Regions from separate parts of the Homo sapiens genome. Here region 1 is linked to region 2. The links come from fine-mapping of genetic effects on gene expression. Tissue or cell type: whole blood. Region 2 holds a variant in brackets; the other region holds the start of a gene. All regions are shown on one strand. Distances are from middle to middle.

The links. PIP is the estimated chance that this variant, and not a neighbour inherited with it, causes the effect.
Region 1: it holds the start of FGGY, and the variant in region 2 is fine-mapped to the expression of FGGY in whole blood (TOPMed, PIP above 0.99). The same link has a PIP of 0.9 or more in adrenal gland, amygdala, blood mononuclear cells, esophagus mucosa, lung and nasal epithelium.

The regions. Positions count from the first base shown.
Region 1 is chr1:59,293,765-59,301,864 of GRCh38, forward strand. It overlaps FGGY (FGGY carbohydrate kinase domain containing), which reads left to right and starts at 3,330. Exons shown (of 16, transcript NM_018291.5): 1 at 3,330-3,386. It overlaps FGGY-DT (FGGY divergent transcript), which reads right to left and starts at 2,786. Exons shown (of 2, transcript XR_001738089.2): 1 at 2,605-2,786; 2 at 1-2,000. RefSeq lists silencers at 2,732-3,271, 3,282-3,371 and an enhancer at 4,789-5,988.
Region 2 is chr1:59,759,097-59,767,192 of GRCh38, forward strand. FGGY (FGGY carbohydrate kinase domain containing) reads left to right here. Exons shown (of 16, transcript NM_018291.5): 16 at 3,407-3,634. The coding sequence ends at 3,488. Among named protein-coding and RNA genes, the nearest start is that of MIR4711, 30 kb to the left of the region's middle. RefSeq lists an enhancer at 3,657-3,706. The variant T/TTC (reference allele first, on the strand shown) is at 3,542.

The DNA.
Region 1 (8,100 bases), 470 kb before region 2:
ACTTTTGTGATGGAACATCAGAATACAATAAATTAGTGATACAGAAGTGCTGGGAAGTGAAGGGTGTGTCCCTTTAAATGATAGGGAAGGGGGCAGGGACATGCGTATGTGTGCCCAAGGACCTAGGTGAGGACAGGCATAATTTTGTTTTCCTGCCCAAATATTGCATTTCCCAAGACAACCCTGGCCTGCCACACCCCCATCCTGTGCTATAAAAACCATGAGACCCTAGCAGGTAGACAAACAGGCGGCTGGACGTCGAGAGGAGCACATCAGCGGAGGAACACGCGGGCAGCTGGACGTTGAGAGAACACACTTACGCCAGCAGGCCACCAACTGGCAGAATGACATGGAGTTTGGCTGGGGCAGTGGGAGGAGAGCCTGGGCCGCCAAGCGGCCCGACACCAGGGGAAAACCATCTCCCTTTTGGCTCCTCCACCTGCTGAGAGCTACTTTCACTCCATAAAACCTTGCAATCATTCTCCAAGCCCACGTGTGATCCAATTCTTCTGCTACACCAAGGCAAGAACCCCGAGATACAGAAAGCCCTCTGTCCTTGCAATAAGGCAGGGGTTTAATTGAGCTGGCTAACACAAGCCACCCACGGACGGCTAAACTAAAAGAGCACCCTGCTACATGTGCCCACTGGGGCTTTGGCTGTAAACAGTCACCCCTAGACACTGCCGTGGGGTCAGATCTCCACAGCCTACCTGTCTGTATGCTTCCCTAGAGGTTTGTGCAGTGGGGACTGAAGAAGTGAGTCACACCCACATCGCACGCCCTGTGAAGGGGACAAGGGAACTTTTCCCATTTCATTAGGGGTTGGCAAACTAAGGCTCATGGGCCACATTGTCCATTGCCTGCTTGTGTAAGTAAAGTTTTATTGAAACATAGTCATACCTACTCATTTACTATTGTCTATGGCTGCTTTTACATTACAAAGTTGAGTAGTTGCAACAGAGACTGTATTGCTCACAAAGTCTAAAATATTTACTATCGGTCCTTTACAGAAAAAGTGTCACTCCCTGGAATAAATGAATCAAATGGAAGTAAATGGAAAAAAAAAAAAGGATTCATTCATTCGTAATAGGCAGTGTATCATAACTGAAAAAGATAGTGAAAATTGGTTTCAGACAAACCCAGGTAAGAATCTCACCTTCGCCACTTGGCTGGAAAACTCTGAACAAATTATTTTTACTCTTTGGGCCTGTTTCTGCATCTATCACCTTATAAGGTTGCTGTCTGAGAATTCTACTATACAATGTAATGTATCTGTTAGAGTGTAATATATCTGTTATTAGGTTTGACCTCATACAATAGAAACACAAAATAAAAGTGTCTTACACAGGACAGCAGTTTTTTTCTTTCATGTGGAGGTCTGGAGGGCAGTGGGTATTGATTGGTTCAGTGCCTCCTGCATTAGGAATCCACGCTTCTTTCACTTTGTTGCTTTGCTGTGTGTGGGTTTCATTCCTGAGGTCCTTTCATGGTTCAACACGGCTGCTGGAGCAAATAAAAAATCAAATACACAAAAGCCCAGAGAAAGAGCCATCCACAGAGGCCAGGCAACAAATCCACTTATTCAAGTCTAGCCAAGATGAGACCCCCTTGCCACAGTGCATGAAACCAGCATATTCCACTTATTCCATTCTTGGGGTACGTTGAAACAGATCTGGAAGCAATGTCTTCTGTGTATTAAGCATCTAACACTTTACAAAGCATTTTCATATGTCTTACCACATTTGTTCTTCATAATGTTCTGAAAAGGTAAGATGAATACATCTTATTATTCCTATTGAACACTTGATTCACACAGCTGCTAAGTAACAGATTCCAACGAGTCTATAGCTAGGTCTTTGGGTATGTTGCTGGTAATGAAAAGGTGAACAATCATGGTGCAGAAGAAAGAAAATGAGCCAAACCAGGATCCCTGGTAGAGTTGTAGTGCAAAGACTGGGGTTAATTGTGTGGCCTCAGCCTCACTGGGCTGTTCTCCTCACCTGTAAGACCAAGATAAGAGCACTTATTTACTTCGGGGTTGTTGTGAAGATAGCAGACAATCTTAGTGCACCTGCCACTTAAGATCCGTTCAGTGAAATTATTACCTTTCACAGGTGTGTCTTTGGAAAATCACTTCCCTTTCCTGGATCTCAGTTTTCTTTTCTAGGAAAACAACATGTTTGGACTCAGCGACTGCTAAACTGTCTCCCAAACCTCGAACTCCCTCAGCCTGGGATCCTGCCTTTTATGAAAATAGTTCGGATTGGAGCTCAGGTTGGAATTCTCGCTTTAGTTGCTTGCTAGCTGTGTGTCCCAGTAAAAGCTAAAAATTTCGGATTCCCCACATCTGTAGAATAGGGATACATAACATGCAGCTTATTAGAAAGGGAAGGCATGTGAGAATTAAATTAGGTCCGTGTCCAGTACCCACTAAATTGTAAAAACTTCTCAAAGGCAGGGACCCATCTGTTTTGTAGATTTACAGAATGTCATACGTTGAAGTACGGGGGTTCGCCACGGGATTAGAAAATTTCTGTAGAGTAAGGAACAAGACACAAGGTAAGCATTCAAGAATTGTAACCATGCAATATTCTTATTTCTTACAGTCGCCTACAACAGTCCTGGTGTTTAGTAAACGGTCTGACACACACACCCATCAGGGGCTGCGGAGAGTCCGCCTGGGTAAGCTCCGCAAGGTGAGTCCCCAGAGCCGGGAACTCGCAGCCTGAGCAGACGCAGCGTAGCCGATCTTGGGTCCGCGCTCCTCCCGCCTTGCCCAGCCCTGCCCGCGGTTGGCTAGGCCCCAGGGAACGCTGCAGCCGCGGGGTGGGCAGGCGACGGCCAATCCCACGCCCGGTTCAAAGGGCCAATCAGGCCGCGCTTTACAGGGGCCGCGCTTTACAGGGGCCGCGCTTTACAGGGGCCGCGCTTTACAGGGGCCGCGCTTTACAGGGGCCGCGCTTTACAGGGGCCGCGCTTTACAGGGGCCGCGCTTTACAGGGGCCGCGCCGGCGGGGGCGGGATCGCGCGCAAGGCGGGGCTGTAGCCGCCCCGGGACCGCCCTGCTCAGGCGCCGTGGGGTTCGGCGCGGCTACGTGCAGAATCCGTCTAGCTAAAATGTAATTTCAGATTGGACAAGTACTGTAAGTGACCCTCCTCTCAGTCCCACGTGGGCGCTGGGGGCTTTTGCTGGTGCGCAGGCTCTTAGCGCGCACGCCCAGAAAGAGGCTTCTCCAACCCGGCCCGGCCCTTCCTTCCCCTTTCCCGCAGTCGTTGCCTCCTCCTCCCCTGCCTCCTCCTCCCCTTCCTCCTCCTGGCCGCTTAGTCTCACACCCGCCGGGCCGTTGTTCCCGAGACGTTGTTGAGTCCCCTGTGTCCTCTTCTGGGTGAGGCGTCCGGCCACTTAAGGGAAGGGAAGGGAAGGGTCGGCCTTGACTGCATCCCCAAGGCTGCCTATTAGGTGTCTGGAACCCGTGCTGCTTCCTCTCCGATCAGTGCCCACTTATCTGTATTCAGTACTCTTTCTCTCCTCCCCTTACCCTTGTAGGACATTTTCCTGGCATTTGAGGAGCCTTTAATTCACGTCTGGCTACCGAAGGCATTTTTAGGCTAGTGTTGCTTGTAGATTTAAACGCTTCCAGCACTTGTGATAATGTTTGAGGCACAGCTGAGTTTAGATGAGATAATGCTGTTTGGTTACAGTTATCCTGAGTAGAAAGGCCTAGGGATATCTTTTCATTTTTAGCCGTTTCCTTTTTATTTAAAGATTGACAAGGGGCCGGGCGCGGTGGCTCACGCCTGTAATCCCAGCACTTTGGGAGGCCAAGGCGGGTGGATCACGAGGTCAGGAGATCGAGACCATCCAGGCTAACACGGTGAAACCCCCGTCTCTACTAAAAATACAAAAAATTAGCCGGGCGTGGTGGCGGGCGCCTGCAGTCCCAGCTTCTCGGGAGGCTGAGGCAGGAGAATAGCGTGAACCCAGGAGGCGGAGCTTGCAGTGAGCTGAGATCGTGCCACTGCACTCCAGCCTGGGGGACAGAGCGTCTCAGAAAAAAAAAAAAAAAATTGACAAGGTGCAAAATGGTGAATTTCCCTCATCATGGGCTGTTTTCCACTAAAGCACTTCTGTGTCTTAACACAAATTTCTTCCCCGAAGAGTCAGTCATGACATGACCAAAGTCTGAAAAGCAGTTAATCCTTAGGTTAAATTTTAAAGTATGAGACCAGGAGGGGTGAGGTGCTTATTCTTTTGACTTGTAAATCAGAATGAAAGAAGGGAAAGTCTTTTATTTTGTGGCTGTTATTTAAATGGTAGAGTTTTGCTTTGTATAGTTTTTGCTTGCTTTTCCTCTTTTTTTTCTATGATCCACCACGTGTATGTCCTGATTTTTTTCCTTTTTAACTTGCTTGCTGGATTTTCCAGCCAGATGACTGCCGCTTGGTCTTCTGGGAGTCTCCTGTTAATGGGGCCCTCATGCTTGGCTCTTGACCTGATGGCCACTGGCCTGGCTCTTGGAGGACCTCCTAGTGGGAGGCCCAGAGCACTGTTATTAAGGATGATTGGGGGAACAGATCAGAGGGGGTCAGCTGGGCCTGGAGATCAATTTTGAGGGGGAGGGAGGTTGGGAGCCTGCCTGGCTGGATTTGGAAGTCAAAACATGTGTGCTGGGAGAAGGGCATAACCCCAGAGGGTGGAGAGCCATGTCTTTCTGGATAAAATTAATAAGTTTACTGGGAGGAGGCTGGGCCTTCCAGGCTGTGTTAGTTTTTGTTGTGGGCCTTGGCTTTTCCTGGAATTTGGTTCCCTTTCCCTAACCTTTCACTTATTAGTTTAAATAGTTCCCTTTACCTAACCTTTCACTTATTGATTTAAATAGTTTAAATCACAGTCAATTACCAGCTGGTTTTTAAAATAATTTGAGGTAATGAATCTTGCCCTTAATCTCCTAGCCAGAGTGGAACCCCCTACCTCCACCCCCAGGGGGATTTGAAATGATTATTTTACCAGAACGTGCTACAGAGATCACTTACCTTCTCACCCGCCCACCTTTTTATAATGGAGGGACATAGAATCAACCCAGGTGGTGTCAGAGATCATCCAAATCAGTTCTTCATGTATTCATTTGTTCACTCATCTTGTCCACATACTTTGGGCCCAGAACTGTGGTAGTCTCTGGGAAAGTGCAGATGAGTAAGACTTGGTCTCTGCTTTCAAGCTTTCATCCAGTTTGCTTCAATCCACTTTGATGAGGGAGATTATGTGATAGTGAGATGAGTACATTGAAAAGGTATGCCGAAGACTCCCAGGAGTTGAGAGAAGGGCAAATGGCTCAACATGGGGAAGCCATTTGGGGAGGACTTCCCAGAAGGGAATACTGGAGCCGAGTTCCAAAGCCTAAGTATGAGTGGGCTGGAGAAAGAGCGAGGGATTATATGAACCGGGAACAGCATGTGCAGAACTACACAAGCATGGCACATGGTTGATTAGGATGGCTGTGCAGGAAAGGATAAGTTGGAAAAAATCACCTGACAGGAGGCTGGGGAGGGTGAAGGCCAGGTCAGGAAGGGTCTGGTGAATCATCTTAGGGGAGTTTGAAATATATCTCCAGGGCAAACAGTGATACATACTCTCAGGTTTATGTTATAGAAAATTAATTCTGGCTGCAGTTTGGAGAATGAATTGGATTGGCGAAGCCCGGAGAGAGGTAATTGTAGTAATATAGGTGAGAGACGTGTTAGGGTAATAGTTATGGGAGTGGAGAGAGATTAGGAAAATAGAATGGTTAGGAATGTTATAAAGGTTCAGTGCCACAAAAGAAATAGCACTTGAATATCAAATTTTCTTTTTTCTTCTCAGCAAGGCCATTTACTTCTATAGAAGGGTGCGCCCTCACAGATGGAGCAATGGTGAGCGCACACCTGGACAAGGGTGGGGGGGCGGGTCTTATGCCTGACGCACGTGGCCCCTGTTGCTGTGTCGTTCCCCTATTGGCTAGGGTTAGACTGCACAGGCTAAACTAATTCCAATTGGCTAATTTAAAGAGAGTGACGATGTGAGTGGTTTGGCGGGAAAAATGGTTATGGCAGAGCAGGAAATCGGAATGAGTCAGGGTGGAGAATGAGCAGGTAATCGGAATGAGTCAGTGAGTCTGGGTGGAGCAGGTGATCGAAAAAGCTTGCTTTATGAGGACGTTAAATTTAAAAGTAGAAAAGAATTGAACATACTGACATATTGATTCTTTGAAGAGAAATTTAGAGCTCATATCTAATGGAAATTAATTACTGACTGAATGTAGGGATAAGAAGGAATGTAGTCATCAGTAGGTGTTCTTGAGTGGGCTATTTTGTAGCAGCTTTAGTGAGGAATAACTGACATCCAGTAAACTACGTATTGAGAGTGTCTAATTGGAGAAGTTTTGTTATATGCATATATCTATGAAAACCATCATGACCATCAAAAGAACATACCTAATAACCCCAAAGATTGCTTGTGCCCTTTTTAATTCCTCTTTGTATACCCCCTAAGGTAAAGTATGTATTCAATCTTTCGTCCATTTTAAAAAATGAGCCTTTTATTTTCTTTTTATTGAGCTTTGAGAATTCTTTATTCTTATCATAAGTTCTTTATCACGTGTAACTTGCAGATATTTTCTTATTTTGATGCTTGTCTCAACAGTGTCTTTTGAAAGCAGAGTTCTTAATTTTGATGAAGTCTAATTTATAATTTGGTTAAATAAATGTTACCAATCTGAATTATAATGGATCATGCTTTTTGTGTTTTATCTAAGATATCTTTGCTTAACCTAAGGTCTCAAATATTCTTCCTATTTTTAAAAGAAGTTTTGTCATTTTTGGTTTTATATTAAATCTGTGATCATTTTAAGGTAATTTTTGTATAGGACATGAAATATGGAATCAAGTTTTTTTTTTGCATATGGCTATCCAGTTCCAGCACTGTTTGCTGAAAAGCCTATCTTCATTGAATTGCCTTTGCACCTTTGTTCAAAAATCAATTTACCATGTATACATTGGCCCAATTTTGTGTTTTATTTTGTTCAGTTGATCTCTTGTCTATTTTAATGCGAACACCACATAGTCTTATAAATACAGCTTTGTAATAAGTACTGAAATCAGGTAGTATAAGTCCTTTAATTTTGTTCTTTTTAAAATTTGTTTTGATTATTCTAGGTTCTATTTCCATATGAATTTTATAATCACTTTGTCCATTTCAAAATAAGGCCTATTTAGATTTTAACTGGAATTGTATTGAATGTATACATTAATTTGGGGGGAGAATTGACATTTGAAATACCAAGTCTTCTGACCCGTGGACACAGTATATCTGTTCATTTATTTAAGTCTTCCTTATTTCTCTAGGCAATGTTTTGTAGCTCTCAATATGTAGGTCTTACACATCTTTGTTGGATTATCTGTAGGTATTTCCTATTTTTTGATGATATTGTAAATGATATTAAAATTTTATGTATTTTAAAAATTTATTTTCCAGTTGTTTTCTTGTTACTGGTATATTGATTGTGTATCCTGAAATCTTGCTCATGTGCTTATTATTTCTAAGAGCATTTTTGTAGATGCCATCAGATTTTCTATTTAGGTGATCCTGTCATCTGTAAATAAAGATAGTTTTACTTCCTTTCCGATGAGATTGCCTTTTATTTTTCTTGCTGTATTCCACTAGCCAGAACCATTGCTTTGCATAGAACTGATGAGAGCTGACATCTTGCCTTCTTCCTGATCTGAGGGAGATGCATTCATTTTTTCATTATTAAGTATGATGCATGATGCTAGTTGTATATCTTTTGTAGATATGCTTTATTAGGTTTAGGAAGTTTCATTGTATTCCTACTTTACTGAGAATTTTTTTAAAGGAATAATGGAAGTTGTAATTTTGTTGTTTTTCCTATAACTGTTGTGATCATTCTTTTTTTTTTTTTTTTTTTTTTTTGAGATGGAGTTTCGCTCTTGTTGCCCAGGCTGGAGTGAAGTGGCGTGATCTCGGCTCACTGCAACCTCCACCTCCCAGGTTCAAGCGATTCTCCTGCCTCAGCTTCCCGAGCAGCTGGGATTACAGGCACGCAC
Region 2 (8,096 bases):
AAGTGCTTTTATAATTTTAGGGAAGTATTCGAGGTTAAGACCTAAAAGCAAATTCCACTTAACATGATGAACAGGCAAATGTGCAGATCCCACTGAAGCAGGATCAGTATTTAACAGAATTGGAAATGTTCATGGAAAAGCAATCCACTTTCTTTTCATTTCCTTTAACTCCACATAGAGTCAGGCTGCTAACCCTCCGAATATAAACCCTTCTCTAAAGGCCAGGGTGGAAGGTACAGGCATTGCGTAGGGGAGCTCCATGCAGGAAGGTGGAGAGATCTGAGTTCCCACTGGCAGTAGGAGCTATGGGCTGCTGTCCCTGTTTCTGTTCCCTGGAGGCAGCTGGAGCATCCCTCTTTTTGTGAAATTAGAAAGATTGTCTTTCTCCATCTCTTCCCTGACCCTCCCAAGACTTTTCAGGGAAGTTTTTAAGTTTTTTCCGTAAACCCCACGTGTTCAGAGAGTCCTCCGCTGCTTGCTGGGAGCTGGCAGCTGGCAGCTGTTCTCTGCGAAGGAGGCGGCACACACGGTGCTTTAGCACCATCTGCAGGCAACCCAGAGATTTGCAAGGAGACAGGAGAAGCCAGTTTCCTTCTGAGCCAACCTCATCTCATTGCCTAATAGATCACACTGTTAACGATGTGGGACGACATTTACTTAGGCCTCTGCCACACAGAAGCAGGGACTGAGTTGAGGCACATTTTGAAGAGAGGGGATTCAGCTGATTTTAAAATTCACAGTCACGGAGAGTGTAATTTAGTGACTATAGTTTAATAATAAATGTTTAGGATGACCCCAAATTGCATTATTATGTTCAGTCCAAATTTATATGTGGCTCTGGAAGAGTCACTTAAATGTGCTTTGAGAAATTTGGTGCATTGAAAGACACTATCAACAGAGTAAAAAGGCAACTCACAGAATGGGAGAAAACATTTGCTTATCATACATCCAGTAAGGGATTGATATCCAGAATATATAAATGTATAAAGAACTCCTAAAACTCAACAACAACAAAAAAGCAAAAACAACCCAATTCAAAAGTGGGCAAAGGACTTGAATGAATATTTCCCCAAAGAAGATTTATAAATGACCAGTAAGCACGTGATAGGGTATTCAACAGCACTATTAGGAAAATCAAAACTACCGTGAGGTACCACCTCACACATTAGGATGCTACTATTTTAAAACAGAAAACAACAAATGTTGGCAAGGATGTGGAGAAATTGGAAGCTCTGTGCATAGTTGGTGAGAATGTAACATAGTATCGCTGCTGCAGAAAACACTATGGCCATTCTTCAAGAAATTAAGAATAGAATTAACATGTGATTCAGGAATTGTATTTCTGAGTATATACCCAAAAGAACTGAAAGTAGGGTATGGAAGAGATATTTCTACATTCATGTTCACAGCAACATTATTCATGATAGCGAAAATCATGAGAGCAACCTAAGTGTTCATTAGTAGATGAACATATAAATGAAGAATGATATGTGCATACAATGGAGTATTATTCAGCCTTAGAAAGAAGCAATTTCTGACATGCCACACATCAGTGAACCTTGAGGATATTATTCTAAGTGAAATAAGATAACCACAAAAAGACAAATACTGCATGATTCCACCTATGTAAAGAATAAGGCCAGTGCACAAAGTTGTGGCAAAGTTGTCAGTATTAACATTGTAAATCAAGTGTGTGTGAAGGGGTGCTCACCTTAGCTCCCTTCTAGATATTTTGAGATTCTAAAGTCAAGAAATCTATCTCATGTAGTGAAAGAATTCCTTACCGTTATATTGTCACAGAGCATCATTAGTAGGAGCAAATTGTTCCTAAAATAATTCTACAACTAATAAATTTGGATGCTCATAGAGTAGGTCTTAGTAGTACCTACATATAGCTATATTGATGATATTAAAATATTAATTATCTAAAATTTAGTAACTAGCATTTATATCACTTATTATGAGTCAGGTACTGTTCTAAATGCTTTTCATTTATTTCCACATTTAATCTACAACAGCTCTGCTGAAGTAGATCCCATAATTATCCCCATTTACAGATGGAGAAATTTAGGCAGAAATAGTTTAAGTAACATATCCAAAGTCACACAGCTAATGTTAGGCCACATTAAGATTCCAACCCAGGCTTTGGAGTTCGCCTTTTAACCCTGTGCTTGGCCCCGTCACAACTCCTACGTTACCAGAATGCTTACAGTCTAATAAATATTGGGTAGGGGACTCCTACTAACATAGCTATGTGTGACAAGTAGAAGTCCCTGTGTGTATCCAAGGTTACTCTTACAACCTCTCTCTGCCAATGCACAACTTTGCACCAAAATTTCATCATGAGGACTCCTTTTCAGAGCACCCCAGAATTGAGCAAGACATGCTAAACTGGCTTCTTCACCCCCTCACCCCATGTCAGCTTCCCAACCAAGAGGAGTAAGGACAAAGTTGCAAGGCTGCAAGTATAATTTGTCTCGGTTCCTATTATTCCTTTCAGGATTATGATGCCAGAGCAGCTTCAGCTGTTCTGCTGTCTGATTCATGGCCAATACCAGTTCTAACAGGTCTAACCCAAAGAGTCAGCCAGATAGGACAGGGAGAGCAACGGCCACTGTGAGATGTCTGGAAGGCGAGCACAGCTCTAGAAAAGGCATTAGCTACATTTCCATGGGGTTTTGCTCCTGGATAAAGCAGGTCACAAGGGAAACCTAGATGTGGAATCTGCAAAAGGGCAATTAAAATGTTCAGTCTTTGTCCTTGGTCAGGCTGTGATTTTAGGCCAGTCATCAAACCTGGGGCTAGTTATATAGGAAATACTTATTGAAGCTGGCAATGTGAAAGAGTCTCCATTAAGTCCGGCCTTTTTGTATATACAGTAGAAGCTTTGAAGTCAGACAGACATGAGTTTGAATTCCAGCTCTGCCAGTTTTTATCTATACTACTTTGTATATGCCTCTCATTTAGGAATTTTTTTTTTTTTTTTTTTGATGGAGTCTGGCTCTTTCACCCAGGCTGGAGCGAAGTGGTGCAACTCAACCACTTCACAGTGAACGGGGGACGGTTCACTGCAACCTCCGCCCCCCGGGTTCAAGCAATTCTCCTGCCTCAGCCTCCTGAGTAGCTGGGATTACAGGCGTCCACCACCATGTCTGGCTAATTTTTGTATTTTTAAGAGATGGGGTTTAAATGTTCTTATTTCTAAATTGGAGATAATAAAACTTCATCCAGGTCACATATAATAGGTCTGAAACATGCTAATTCATTGCCCAGGATGCTGTAAGCATTCAGAATCTAGGTGTCAGCATCACCACCACACATATATTTCCATTCTTCTAAATGTACAGGGAAGCCCTGTGGCAGTTTTGTCTTGAGATCATTCAACATATTTATATTTCTCCCACAGATACTATGATAAGAAATACCAAGTATTCCTGAAGCTGGTTGAACACCAGAAGGAGTATTTGGCGATCATGAATGATGACTGAACAGGGCTTGCAGGTGCTGATGCCAGAAGCTTCTGTGCCATTGCATTAAAGAC[T/TTC]TGTCATTTGATCCATGTTCAAGACCCTTGAGGTATTGTTTCATCATTTCTGTATTGTCTTTCAATAAAGAAAACAAACATGTGCAACCAGAATTAGAGTCTTCATTTCAAAATACCGCTATTATTTAGTTTCAGTTTCCATACAGTCTCCATTATAGTAACAGAAGTTTCACATAGGGTCATAGGATCTCACATGAGACTAGACCTTGGGGGCTATTCAATCCAGGGAAGGCCTGTACTTTTTTTTTTTTTTTTTTGAGACGGAGTCTCGCTCTATCGCCCAGGCTGGAGTTCAGTGGAGCGATCTCGGCTCACTGCAAACCCCGCCTCCCAGGTTCACACCATTCTCCTGCCTCAGCCTCCTGAGTAGCTGGGACTACAGGCGCCCGCCACCGCGCCTGGCTAATTTTTTGTATTTTTAGTAGAGACAGGGTTTCACCATGTTAGCCAGGATGGTCTCGATCTCCTGACCTCGTGATCTTTCCGCCTCGGCCTCCCAAAGTGCTGAGATTACAGGCATGAGCCACTGCGCCCGGCCAGGCCTGTACTTTTTAATCAATTAAATGTCAGCTATTAAATGAAAAACTTACATTACTTTAGGTAGGACATCTAATGCATAGTCGATGTCTTTTATGGCATTTTCCCCTCCTGTGCAGGATCTAGTCTAGGGTCAGATACCACATTTATTTGCAGAATTGTAATTTCACAATCATCATATTAAAGACAGGTATAGGCAGGAATCATCGATGGATCCAGGAGGGAATTTTGAAGAATAACAGGATATATGCATAATCTTAAAATATCTCTTCAGAATTTGCTTATTAGTTACAAGAGGAAAAAGAACGTTAAGTATACAGGGAAGAAATAGGACAACATCTTGATTAGGTGATCCAAATCAACTTCAGATGGGCAAATGGACATTGTGTGCCTCCAGATATGAGAAAAGAAAGAGCATTTTAATGCAGAGCCTGAATCTAATCAGAAGGAAACATCAGACAAACGCAACATGGGAAGCATTTTATTTTTTAATGGACTATATTTTTCAAAAATATCTATGTCATACTGACAAAGAAAGGCTGTGGGAAGTTTCCAGATTAAAGGAAACTGAAGAAACCTGATGGCTAAAAGCTTTTGATGTAGACAAGCACTGGGAAAACTAGCTGTTTTAGTTGATACCACAGCAGACACACAAACGCACACAGACATACACATACATATACATACATAAATATGTCAACACCCACACATAATTTCAGACCCAAGAGTAACTGCTAACGTTGATTTGAGAGCTGTCATAGCTCAAATGAGTGTGGGTAGAGGACATGCTAAGACTTCAGCAAAAGACAGCAGGTAGAGAAGAAAAAGCCAATATAATTCAGTAAATAAACATCCTCTGGAGTACTTTGTGCCACATGTTGTGGTAAGCACTGGTCTACAGGAATAAATAAGACATGGCCCCTGCCTTCAGGAACCTCCCTGTTTAATGAGAGACATAGACAAATAGATTGATGACAGTACATTATGAGAAATGCTACAATTACAAAAAAAAAAGTACCTGCTGCATGGAGCCCATCAGTCAGAAAAGGAGGAAGGAGAAGGTGGGATGAAAAACAATATGGTGTAACAGCTATGAGCCCTGGCCTGGGATCCTAGGCCTGGTCTTACCTCTTACTAGATGGGTGACTTGGAGAAAGGTCCTTAATCTTCCTAAGTCTCAGTTTCCTCATTTTGAAATGAATAGGTATTGAATATGAATATGTTTTTTTTGTTGTTGTTGTTGTTGGTTTTTTTGTTTTTGTTTTTGTTTTTGTTTTTTTGAGACGAAGTCTTGCTCTCGCCCAGGTTGGAGTGCAGTGGCTTGATCTCTGCTCACTGCAAGCTCCACCTTCCAGGTTCACGCCATTCTCCTGCCTCAGCCTCCCGAGTAGCTGGGACTACAGGCACCCGCCACCACGCCCAGCTAATTTTTTGTATTTTTAGTAGAGACGGGGGTTTCACCATGTTAGCCAGGATGGTCTCGATCTCCTGACCTCGTGATCCGCCCGCCTCGGCCTCCCAAAGTGCTGGGATTACAGGCGTGAGCCACCGCACCTGGCCTGAATATGTTAATAGTACCTACTTTACAGGATTATAATGAGGACTAAAGGAGATAATGCATATAAAGCACTCGGCTCAATTGCATGGTCCATGCCTGTGTTATTACAGGGCTCTGCTCCTAGAAGATGCTCAAAATAGTAACTGTAGTAAGCATGGAGAAGGGTGAGCACCCCAGTTATGAAGGTCAGCTCTGCAATAGCATTCTACAGTATCCAAAGGATATAGGGACCTTAGGCATAGCCCCGAGTGAAGGTGGGTGTGCGTGTCTGATCTAGCTGGCCTAAAAGCAGAAGGAAGCCCAGTGCATTCATAGATCCTAGCCAGAGGTTGCACTAGGGATAAAGGAGGATTGGGGATCACTACAGAAGAGGAGTCGGGTATTGCAGGATCTAAGCAAGATGTCAGGTCTATGGTCAAACAGGCTTCAGCTGCAAAAGCTGATTATCACTCACTGAGAAACGGGCAGGCCTGGACCTGCTCACACAAAACCCTGGTGAATGCGGTGGTTGTCTGTGGATACAAAAGGCAGACATAAAAGCATGAATAATTACCAACTATCTGCCAAGTCCTTGTTGTATGTCCTCTCCAATCCTCCTACAGCACTGTGAGGTAGGCAGCATTATCTCCACCTTATAGTTGAGAAAGTTGAGTTTCAGAAAAGACATAGTTGAGAAAATTGAGTTTCAGAAAAGATAGACACTTTGCCCAGAGTCACCAGATGGTAGCAGAGATAGGATTCAAATCCAGATCTGCCTGGATGCAAAACTTTAGGTATCACCCCACTGTAACAGCTGGAGAGGAATCCTGCCCACCACCTGCTCTTTAGTTGCAGTGCTCATGTTGTTGATTGCCAAGCTCCGGGTGCTGGCCATTCTTTCAAGCAAACTCGTATCCAAACCAAACCTGACCTGAGTTTTCACTGCTTTATAGAGAAAGGAAAACACACAGAAATTAGGCAAAAACACATGGCAACACTAGGACACCTTTGGCATCTCAACAGTGAGGAGCAGCTTGATAGAAAGGAGAAGGGCTGAAAGACCTTGGGCAACATAGCTAACCTGTCTAAGCCTCAGTCTTTCCCTCTGTGGTGGGATCATTCTGCTACCTACCTCCTAGGGTTGGTGGTAAGGATTCAGTGAAAGAACTGTGGATAAAGCCCTTAGCACAATGCCTTTCAGACAATAGGCACTCTACAAATATTGTTTCTCCATGGTTCTCTCTGCCTCCTAGCTAGGAGGTTAATCCCTAAGAAAATCATTCTGGTTCCTACTATAAAGCCACCGTGTTAGGAAAAAATATAAATGTCTATATATAATTCTATTAGAAACCACGTGTGGCTCAGTAATAAAAATTTTAATCACTCCAATACACACCTCCTTGCACTGAGAAAGGTGGTTTTATTTAATACATGCATGTAAAGTATATTTAGCTTTGATGAATAAGAATTGCAGTGTGGCCAGAGTGGTTTGTGAGATTTTTGTTTTGTTGCCTACTGAAAGCTTTTCTTTCAAGTTAAAGCCAGACTTGCTTAGCAAATCATTTTGCCAAGGAACGCATTACAGGTTTTAAATTTTGACCAAAAATACTTCCCATATGCGAAGAACATAAATGTGGCTTTCAAAAGAGCCAAAGAGAACAAAAGCTGGGGGAGGTGAGGAAGAAAAGACAAGAATGACAGAATGGAGTGGCATGTTGCAGAGCTACAGTAAACTACAGGACCCGATGCCACAGTGAGCTGGAGTCCTAGTGAGGCATCCAGAAGGGACGCCCTCTCTTGTGAAGATCCAGACTGGGCATTTGATCTTTATATTCAGAGCATAATCTGTGTTGTTGCCAGTTGCACTGGGGAGTATAAGTTCCAAGAGGAGCAGTAAAAATATCGTAAGGCAACCCTGGAAACGCCCAGCTTTAAGAATGCACCAAATCAGCATGTGAGTTAGCAAGCTAGAATGCTTAGGTTTTAATATCAACATGATCTGCTATTTCTCCCAGGCCTGAGGATAATCACGTTCTTTAGATTTACTTACCTGCTTTTTTCTTCCTCCCCCCGGCCACCGGCCTGTGAGCTCTTGGAGGGCTCAGAGTATCTTATAGCCTGTTCTCTGTACCCAAACAGTTCTTGGCACGTAATGGGTATTCCATAAGTGAATAAATACACAAACACAAGATGTTTTTCTGAAAAAAAAAAAAAAAAAAAAAAAACACTGGTAGAACTAAAAAAACTCACTTTCAGGTCAATCTTCTGTACGTGTTAATATGCCTTAATTTAAGCAACTGTCAAATGCTTTAAAATGTGTTTTGGTCACTAAGGATTTTTAAAAATCATGCCTTATACCTAACAACTTGCTTTTTTAGTTTTTTATTGCACATAATACACACATGCATAACCACACAACTTCATTTTGGGTTGTAGCTCAAGCTGAGAACCTTTTGCAAATTTTCCATGTTGTTACAGACT